Linked DNA regions of Homo sapiens: region 1 is linked to region 2. The links come from fine-mapping of genetic effects on gene expression. A gene starts in region 2. The other region holds a variant in brackets. All regions are shown on one strand. Distances are from middle to middle. Region 1 overlaps DGUOK (deoxyguanosine kinase). Region 2 holds the start of DGUOK (deoxyguanosine kinase).

The links.
Region 1: its variant is fine-mapped to the expression of DGUOK in monocytes (TOPMed, PIP 0.95).

Annotation. Positions count from the first base shown.
Region 1 is chr2:73,954,558-73,959,934 of GRCh38, forward strand. DGUOK (deoxyguanosine kinase) reads left to right here. Exons shown (of 7, transcript NM_080916.3): 5 at 2,568-2,683; 6 at 3,589-3,688; 7 at 4,153-4,389. The coding sequence ends at 4,179. It overlaps DGUOK-AS1 (DGUOK antisense RNA 1), which reads right to left. Exons shown (of 2, transcript NR_104030.1): 2 at 3,410-3,650. Among named protein-coding and RNA genes, the nearest start is that of DGUOK-AS1, 24 kb to the right of the region's middle. The variant G/A (reference allele first, on the strand shown) is at 2,889.
Region 2 is chr2:73,924,041-73,929,417 of GRCh38, forward strand. It overlaps DGUOK (deoxyguanosine kinase), which reads left to right and starts at 2,840. Exons shown (of 7, transcript NM_080916.3): 1 at 2,840-3,012. The coding sequence starts at 2,871. RefSeq lists an enhancer at 2,872-3,141.

The DNA.
Region 1 (5,377 bases), 31 kb after region 2:
AATAGCTAGGCCTCAGTGTTCCTAGCCAGCCCCATGGAATCAAGAGAGTGCAGCTGATCAATGTACATCAAAAAGCCAGGCCCTACCTGGGACTGGCACAGCATGGGGACAGCATGCAGGAGGTGCATGGGACAAATGGCACCTGGGTTTGGGCTTGAGAGGCATAGTGAAAAGACCCACTAGCAGTCACTTTCCATTTTCTGTTTCTGACTCCAAGCAAGCAGAGCAGCAGTTCTTCTTCCTGGGTGGGACAGGTTAAGAAGACCAGTAAAGGGTCTCTCCCTCGCCACTTGTAGCTACACTATCTTTCCTGTTCACATTCAGGTGTGTCTTCCTCATGAGGACTGAGATGAAGAGGGGTCAGACTAAAGCACTGTTTGCACGGGATTTTTTTAAATAGAATTTGTTATAGCGATATCAGTAAAGCAAGAGTTATGCCAAATGCTCATAGTAGGAGTTTACTTCGACCTCTTTTTTTTTCCCCACTCAATACTGCCACCAGTTAAGACTTAGACTTCTCAGGGAAATCCATTTGCTCTGTTAAGGAAATTAATAGTAAATAGAAATATGTTAGCTTATTTTAATAGATCAATGTTAGTGTCAAGGTTTGTCTGCAAGCAGTGAATGAATAATTATAAATAGCTTTCCTAAAAAGAATTGTTCTGCCTTTGTGTGTGTACTTGGAAACATAAAGTCACATTTTAAAAAAATTTATTTTCACGAAACAGACAACATTTTTTTTCTCAGAAAGGAAAATGAGATGATAGCTTTGCTATGCTTAGAAATCCTAAAGCTACCTTTCTGGTGGGAATATAAATTGGTTAACCTCTAAGGAGGCAGTCTGGCAGTATATAATTGCAAGTGCATATACCTTTTGATCATTAATAAAATTTGTTTCTATAATTTCATTTCCTTAGAGAAAAGGTAAGATAAGAGGGAAACAGCAAAGACTCCCAAGTCTTTGGGATTATTGTGTACTACATTTGGAAATTAAGTTTTCATTTCTTAAGTAAGTTATTGAAAGAGGGAAGTCCTGGCCGGGCACGGTGGCTCACGCCTGTAATCCCAGCATTTTGAGAAGCCGAAGCGGGCAGATCACGATGCCAAGAGATCGAGACCATCCTGGCCGACATGGTGAAACCCCATCTCTACTAAAAATACAAAAAATTAGTTGGGCGTGGTGGCTCCCGCCTGTAGTCCCAGCTACTTGAGAGGCTGAGGCAAGAGAATCACTTGAACCTGGGAGGCAGAGGTTGCAGTGAGCTGAGATCGCGCCACTGCACTCCAGCCTGGCAACAGAGCAAGACTCTGTCTCAAAAAAAAAGAGTGAAGTCCTAAATCAGTGGGTTAATCCATCTGTTCTTCCAGGACAGATGATATTGAATAATGAAATGTTTGTCAAGCAGAGAGAGGACTGAGGATAATTCAGTCAAAACAAACATTTGGAGCAAAAATTTTGAGGTGTGAAAGAGCCTGGCCTGTTCCCCAGGAAAGAGGTCAAATCTGGCTAAAGCAGTGAGTCCAGGGGAAGAGCTAAGGCAGTTGAGAAGTAGGAGGGGTAGCTTTGTGTGACAGGTAAAGAAGATGTCATTTTCTGAGCCAGTGTGCATCAAACTTCACTACCAGATGAATGCAGAATAGAATTATGTACACTCTGCAAAGCAGCGGGGGAGGAGAGTTAGTCTCAAGCCTCACTTGTTTTTCCACTTCTTTGTTTTATCTTTGACCTGTGCAAATTTTACATTCTATTCCTGAGTGAATGTTTGGTATGACATGAAAGAGATATTTCAAATTACCTAACATTTTATAAATGCAATGCTATTCATACATACTGCTTTGAACCCTGGGGCTATGGCTGTAGGCGGTAAAGAGCCTGTGAAGTATTTTCAGCAAGGAAAGTCATGTCATTATATTGCCGTACTACAGACGGGTGGAGTGAAGGGGAAAAACTGGAAGGAGGGAACAGCTTTTGCCAGGAGCTCAATACAACTTACCTCAGTGACCTGTGGATGGGTAGACAATGAGGAAATAGAAGCCCACAAGGACTGCACTGCTAGTACCTTATGAAGGCAGGAATTTACTCCTGGACTTTCTGACCTTAAGGCCTGTACTCTGTCCATATGCTTCCCTGCCTCCAGGAGGCAGAACCAGAAGGCTCTTGCCATAATCCAGGTAAGAAGTAAAGAGGACCCGACCAGGGCAGAGGTGAGAGGAGAGGCAAGGAGAGAACATTCTAGAGAGATGAAAGAGAATTGAGTGACTTCCCAGATATAGTAGGGAGAAGGAAAAACAAGGAAAATTCCAGGTCCGTGGCTTGGATGACTGGATGGATGATGTTCATCATTAACCGACTTAGGATACTTCAGAGGAAGAGCAGGTTTAAGGTGGAGATGGGAAAAGAATGGTGTAGATCCTCTGATTGCATAAGAAAACAAGACAGCAGAAGCAAAGGCATGGCTTGTAATGCCCAAGATAGACATTATGGGTGGGCCTCAGAGCCCCCGAAGACTGCATTGTAGCAGCCAAAACAGCAAAGAGCTCATCAGGGCTTGGGGACTGTCTTTTAGGTTTGTTTGAAGAGACTGTACCAGAGGGCCAGGGAGGAGGAGAAAGGAATTGAGCTGGCCTATCTAGAGCAGCTGCATGGCCAACACGAAGCCTGGCTTATTCACAAGACAACGAAGTAAGTGGGGAGAAAAGAATGTATCAGAGACAGAGACCTGGCTCCCAACAGCCAGTTGTTAAAAACAAGTTCAGCATGCAGCCCCCTGTAGGAAGGTTCAGAATATACTGGAAATGGTTGGAAATGTCAAGCATTTTCCAACTCAGAAGTTTAATATTGCTGGACACCGTGGCTCACGCCTGTAATCCCAGCACTTTGGGAGGCT[G/A]AGGCAGTCACCTGAGGTCAGGATTCAAGACCAGCCTGGCCAACATGGTGAAACCCTGTCTCTACTAAAAATAGAAAAATTAGCCAGGTGTGGTGTCAGGCGCCTGTAATACCAGCTACTCGGGAGGCTGAGGCAGGAGAATCGCTTGAACCTGGGAGGCAAAGATTGCGGTGAGCCGAGATCGCACCACTGTACTCCAGCCTGGGCGACAGAGTGAGATGCCCAGAAGAAGTTTAATATTGAATATAATCTTTACATTCCAAGGGCCTTTTTATTAGATTGTATTTCTCCAGCTTTTTCTTTGTTTCTTAACATTTCCCTAGACTGAACATTGTGATTGATGGTGATAGTTGGCTCAGCATGAAGGGCTGAAAATGTTAGAGAAATTGTCAGTATTACTAAGTTGGCATTCCTGGTTTCTGCCTGTCCTCCCTTTAGGCTTGGTTTGTTGTCCACTTAAAATGTTTGGTGCTCTGACTGTTTGTTAGTATCACTCTCAAGAATGAAGAGAAACCTCAACCTTTCTGTTTCCGGCCAACTTTATTGAATTTGTTTTTTTAAATGCAGTTTACATGCAGTTTCTTTGAAAAGTCATGTTGAATTTAGATCTGTTCTCTGAGTAAGACTTGGCGAGTATGTGAAACTTGACTCAAGTTACATTTCTTTTTTTCTGTCCCCCAAACGTTCACGCTTCTTATAGGCTCCACTTTGAGGCTCTGATGAACATTCCAGTGCTGGTGTTGGATGTCAATGATGATTTTTCTGAGGAAGTAACCAAACAAGAAGACCTCATGAGAGAGGTGGGAAGGACTTTAACTCCTGTTTTCTGGTGGTTTCCTTTGTTGTACTTTTATCTTTCTGGCCTTTGCTTCAAAGTTCAATATCATGGGTCTTGTGCTTTGCATCTCACATTGCATTTCACACTCCAAGGCCTATGGAATCTTGTGCAGATTACAAATATCCCTATTCTCTAAAGTATGCTGGACTAATAATTGTTAAATAATTGACTTGTAACATGTGCTTGCCAGCTGACTTTCTTCTCTAAGGCATCCTAAAACTAGGGAAATGAGACTACTGGATTCTATTCCCAGCTCTGCCACTTGATGCTATATGACCCTGGGCTGCCCACATTTCTTCTCCATGCCTATTATTTTCCTTTCCTCACAAAAACCTCATGGGCTTGGCTGCATATGCATTGGGGGTGGACCATTGAAAATTCTGTTAAAAATGTGAAATTAAACTTCTGATTTTCTCCTTCCCACAGGTAAACACCTTTGTAAAGAATCTGTAACCAATACCATGAAGTTCAGGCTGTGATCTGGGCTCCCTGACTTTCTGAAGCTAGAAAAATGTTGTGTCTCCCAACCACCTTTCCATCCCCAGCCCCTCTCATCCCTGGAGCACTCTGCCGCTCAAGAGCTGGTTTGTTAATTATTGTTAGACTTTGCCATTGTTTTCTTTTGTACCTGAAGCATTTTGAAAATAAAGTTTACTTAAGTTATGCTTGTTTTTCTAATTCAGTTGCTCATTTATTTCAGCATGTATCTCTTGGTGCTTGCTCTAAATTCACCTCTAGACTAGTGTATTAGTCCGTTTTCACACTGCTATAAAGATACTACCTGAGGCTGGGTAATTTCTAAAGGAAAGAGGTTTAATCGATTCACAGTTTCGCATGGTGGGGGAGGCCTCAGGAAACTTACAATCATGGCAGAGGGGAAACAGGCACATCTCACATGGTGGCAGGTGAATGAGCGAGTGCAAGAAAGAGCAGGGAAACCTGCCTTATAAAACCATTAGATCTTTTGAGAGCTCACTGCCATGAGAACAGCATGGGGGACCTGTCCCGGTGATACAGTCGCCTCCCACCAAGTCTCTCCCTTGACACCTGGGGATTACAATTCAAGATGAGATTTGGCTGGGGACACAAAGCCTAACCATATCAACTAGCAATTTTCAAATTGCTCCCAGAACTCTAACCCAAGCCCTACCTGCCATGCATGAAGAAGGGAAATAAAGTGGCTCAAGAGTGGGTGGGATCTTAAATGTGAGCCCCCCAGAGCAGGAAATGGAGCATGAACTCCAGGAAGCTTCTTTATCTCTTCCCATCTGCCACTCTTGACATAGGGGACAGGTGTGGGGAACTTAAACCCTTGTCCTAGAGCTAAAGAACCTGGCCAAAAGAAAAAGGTAGAAAACAGCAAGAACCCAAAAGTTAAGCATCTGACATTTAAGATTGGCCCGCCCGGCACTCTATCTTTGTCTAAATACCTTACCCAATGACTTCCAGATAACGTTAATGGAGTGGATCTCTCTGTGCAGGAAAAAAAAAAAAAAAATTTTTTGTTGTGCTCTTTACCCTTCAAATAGAATTTATTGTTAAGGGAAGAAAAATACATGGCTCTATAGGATTGAAGTGCTCCATTGCCAGAAGCCTGCAGGTCCATGATTCACAGGAGCAGATCTGCACTGAACCCTTGACGGTTCTGCAG
Region 2 (5,377 bases):
ATCTATCAAAGCTGAGCATATATATGTAACTTATTACACAGCAGTTCCAGTCTTACTTATACACCCAAGAGAAATGCATACTTCTTTTTACCAAAAGACATGTACAAGAATATTTACCGCAACACTATTCATTATGGCTCAAATCTAGAAACTTCCGAGTACATTGTGGTATAGTGACATTGTGGAATACTATACAGCAATGAGAATGAGTGAACTACAACTAATACATTCAACCTGGATGAATCTCACAGATATGTTAAATAAAAGAAGTATTTACTATATAATTCCATTTATATAAAGAAAACGCAAAACTAATCTCTACTGTTGAAGTCAGGCTAATGGTTATCTTTGAGGGATAGTAACTGGCAACGAATATGGGGGATTCTGGAGATGCGGATAATGCTGTTTCTTGATCTGAATCCAGGTAACAGTCATTCCATTTGTGAAAACTTCATTGAACTGTACACTTACAACACATCCTCTTTTCCTCACTGCACAACACATCCTCTTTTCCTCACTACATACTATGCTTTACCATAATTTTTTTTTTTTTTTTTTTTTGAGACGGAGTCTCGCTCTGTCGCCCAGGCTGGAGCACAGTGGCGCGATCTCGGCTCACTGCAAGCTCCGCCTCCCCGGTTCAGGCCATTCTCCTGCCTCAGCCTCCTGAGTAGCTGGGACTACAGGAGCCCACCACCACACTCCGCTTTTTTTTTTTTCTCTCTCTTTAGTAGAGACAGGGTTTCACCATGTTAGCCAGGATGGTCTTGATCTCCTGACCTCGTGATCCGCCCTCGTCAGCCTCCCAAAGTGCTGGGATTACAGGCGTGAGCCACCGCGCCAGGCCACTTCACCATAAAATTTTTAAAAATAATTTTTAGGAGCTCTGTTACTGGTGGAGGGTGCCCAGGTTCTTGACATTTTGAACAAAGAATTGGACAAAACGTACAAAGCAAGGAAACAATGAAGCAACAAAAGCACAGATTTATTGTACATCAAAGAACACTCCTTGCGGTAGGAAGGGCCCAAGCAAGCAGCAATTACAGAATTTTCTGGGGTTTAAATACCTTCTAGAGGTTTCCCATTGGTTACCTGGTGTACACCCTATGTAAATGAAGTAGTGGCCAGCGATCAGTCTGATTGGTTGCAGGAGGGGACCAATCAGAGGCTGAAGTAAAGTTATGAAGTTATACCCCATGCAACTAAAGACTTGGCCTGCCACCAGCCTGACTGATTGCCCGCGGGGACCAGTCAGAGGTACTTTCAATTTTTTATCTGCCACCCAGAAGAGGGATTAGCTTCTGGTCCTTTTGTTACTTGGGCTAGAAAGTTGGGGTTTTCCTTTTGATTTAGTTCTAGGAAGTCAGCCTAAATCGGCCTTAGGTTCCCTGTCTCCAGACCCTATTTTCCTGCCTCGTAGCTTTTAGGAGATTAATGCCTGCCTGCAGACAACTTCCTCATTTAACTTTCACAACACCCCTGAGGCAGCAAGATCCTGGCGAGGCAGAGAGCCTCTCAAGCTTTTTTGGATGAATATTTTCCAAGTCTGAGTTTACATAGGTAAAGAAATGTAAGCAGTTTTTTTTTTGTTTTTTGTTTTGTTTTGTTTTGTTTTGTTTTGTTTTAACAGAAGTGGCTGCTGGAGTGGAGATGGGAATGGGTAGGACTTTAGCCGCTCCAGTAGCCATTAACGCCCCACCCTGGTTATCCTTAAAAAATTCGATTAAAAAAAAAGTTCTTAATATATAAACATGACCTCAGCCATCCTATATATACATCAACATAAGAAAAAGGTCCCGTGCTTTTTATGGGAACAGCTTCAAGACAGGTATCCCAGCCCCCGGCCCCTCCCCAGCCCCCTTGCAATCAGATCCTTGTCTTCTAAAACCTGCCACACCTAAGAGCGCTGCCTGAAGGCCGGTTTGGCCTGTTGACTCCTGGTTTTGACTGTTGGTGATTTAAGCGATTGGAACTGGAAGCACCATTTGACAACATTTTGTAAATCATTACTTCTGAGGTTGTTATGACGACGGGGTGTGGCAGTCCGGCTTCACCTGTGGCAGCAGCTTAGGTCCCTGCCCTCCTGCAGAGCACACTTCACCGACAGCAGGACTCAGGTTTTATACAAGTCTCTACTCGCCATTGCTTACGTCCAAGAACCCAGCCTACCAGGTTTAAACAATTTCCAGTCACATACCTGAGCCACCACCACCTTATCCTGAAGGGATTTTTGGGTATAATGCAAATCGATTGACCGAACATTTATTTACTTATTCAAGACACAAACTAAGAGATGGGGTGTAACTGATTATCTAATTTGTTAATTTAGTCAATAATATGCCAGCATTGTGCAGGGGAATTACAGGGAATAGGAAAAAGTTAAATTTGTGTAAATCATCAGATTGAGTCATTTTCCTACTTTAAAACTTCCATTTTCTTCCGATATTAAAATAAAAACCAGACAACAAGCACCTGGGGGGGGGGAAATCCCCTCTTAAAATTACAATTTCTATTTTTAATTTTGTCTTCAGTTATAAAATTTATTTTAAAGTTATACAAAAATGAAGTGGTTGGATTGTGGAATTACGTCTTTTAAAATGTTATTTGTCCAATGAACAAAAACCACTCGCACCGCAACTCCTTTTACTATCAAATTCTGCACCGTTGCAAAACTTCCTTCACTCAACGCTTCTTTACAAACATCGCGATAGCGGAGCGGTCTCTTGGGCGCACCCCGCCGCATGTTCAACCCCACCCACTTCCTGTCTGACGATCTCCTTACGTCAACGGTGCGCTGGAGCGAGTGAGCAGCGATACCTAGGGCGGAAGTGCTCTCGGCGGAAGTGATCGCTGTGTGAATCGTGGGTGGGATGGCCGCGGGCCGCCTCTTTCTAAGTCGGCTTCGAGCACCCTTCAGTTCCATGGCCAAGAGCCCACTCGAGGGCGTTTCCTCCTCCAGAGGCCTGCACGCGGGGCGCGGGCCCCGAAGGCTCTCCATCGAAGGCAACATTGGTAAGGGCCGGAAAGCGGCTGCCAAGCCTTGGCCTCCGCCACGCAGGCGACAGAGGCTGGGAAAGGAGCTGGGCCCGGAATGGCCTGCGTCTGATGCGGCCGGCCTCTTTTTCTGGGCTGCGAGGAGAGCCTTTCCCCTCGCAAAGTGCACTGTGTATCTTTGCCTCCTTGTTTTTAGGATATCGGGCCTCAGTACCCGCCCACAGGAACATATTTGTTGGGGCATAAAAGCCACGCAGTTAGTGGATAGGACAAGAATTGTATTAGCTGTTTGTAATAGATCGAAATTGAAGCGACAAGCGGGTGCAGTTTATTTGTTCTCCTAGATAGGGTTGCCATATTTAGCAGAAATTAAAAATAATATCCAGTTAAAATAGAATTTAAGATAACGAATAATTTTTAGTGTGTGTCCAATGCAATATTTGGGACATCCTTACAGCAAAACAACAACGAAATCACTCATTGAAAGTTCAAATTTAACTGTGTCCTGTATTTTATCTGGCAACCCTATTCGAAGAGAGTTCCTAAATTTCAGTCGTTCAAATACCACATTCACAATTTTTGCCCTGTGCCTGTGCTAGTTGCATAATAATTTCTTAAGGCTTTTCTTAGAAGAACCTCACTTTTTAAACTTAAAAACATGTATTAAATTAAAAATTATTTTGTTAAAAGAGTGAGATCCAGTATCTTGAATAAAAAGTAGTCAGAAAGCAAAATGAAGGCAAAGCATTTCGATTTAATATTAATAAATTCTGACTTGATACTTTTATCTACCAAGTCACTGAGCCCCTAAAAGGGGCTTAGCAAGTGTTGAGTACTGAAGACGTAGCAGCAAACTGAGAATTTCTTTTTTTATTCATTCAACAAATCACCTTTTGAGCCACTTCCATATGCCAGCACTGTTCTTGGCCTGGAGAATACAGCTGTGAATAGAACAAATAAAAATCTCTGCTCTCATGGAACTCAAGTAGGGAGAGATGGACAATAAACAACATAAATTAAGCAAGGTGAACAATATGTTAGAGAGTAATAAGTATGATGGAGAAAAATTAGGGATGAAGAATTGAGGGAAGTTTTTATTTTATTTTATTTGAGATGGAGTTTTGCTCTTGTTACCCAGGCTGGAGTGCAATGACACGATCTCGACTCACTGCAACCTCTGCCTCCCTGGTTCAAGCGATTCTCCTGCCTCAGCCTCCCGAATAGCTGGGATTAGGGGCACCCGCCACCACACCCAGTTAATTTTTGTTTTGTTAGTAGAGACAGGGTTTCACCATGTTGGCCAGGCTGGTCTCAAACTCCTAACCTCAGGTGATCCGCCTGCCTCGGCCTCCCAAAGTGCTGGGATTATAGGCGTTAGCCACTGCACCTGGCCGAAGTTGTCATTTTAAATAAAATAAGCAAGGCCTCACTGAGAAGGTGACATCTGAGCAAAAAACTGAAGATGAGGGAGCAAATCACGTGGATACCTGGGAGAAGAATCTTCTAGGCAGAGTGAAGAGCAATTGGAAAGGCCCTGAGGTGGAAAGTGTGTTCGGGGAATAGGAGGGAAATCGTTGTGACTGAAGTCGAGTGAGCAAGGATGGGAGGGAAATTAGGGCAAAAGCCCAAGGGGTGGCCAGATTTTATAGGCCTTATCATGGGTTTTTAATCTTACCGAGATGGGTAGCCATTGGAAGGTTTGAGGAGTCAAGTGACAGTTTTACTTAGATTATAAAAAGATCACTGTGGCTGATAACATTGAAAGTGAAGAGTGTTAAGTGGTATTGCAATAATTATAGTATTGTGAAAAGTGAAAGTGGTGAGACGTGATTGGATTCTAGTTATACGTTAACAAAAATTGAGTTACATTTTAAGTAAAATTTAACAGTGGAAGTGGTGAGAAATGATTGGGTTCTAGTTATATTTTAAGATAGGGCCAATTGGATTTGGTGACAGGTTGAATGCAGAGTGTAAGGTAAAGAGAGGGGCCAATGATGACTCCAATTATTTTGACTTGAGTACTTGAAAGATAGACTCCTGATTTTCTTTTATTTCCTCCTCTCCTTCTTCCTCCCCTCCCCTCGCTTCCCCTCCTTTGGTGTGGTCTTGCCCTGTTGCCAGGCTAGAATACAGTGATGCAATTGCATCTCACTGCAGCCTGCCTCCCAGGCTCAAGCCATCCTCCCACCTTAGCCTCTTGAGTAGCTGGATCCACAGGTGTTTGCCACTATGCGTGGCTAATTTTGTATATTTTTTGTAGAGACAGGGTCTCACTATATTTTCCAGGCTGGTCTTGATCTCCTGGGCTCAATTGATCCTCCTGCCTTGGCTTCCCAAAGTGCTGGGATTACAGAAGTGAGCCTTGGTTTTAAGCATGTTAGGT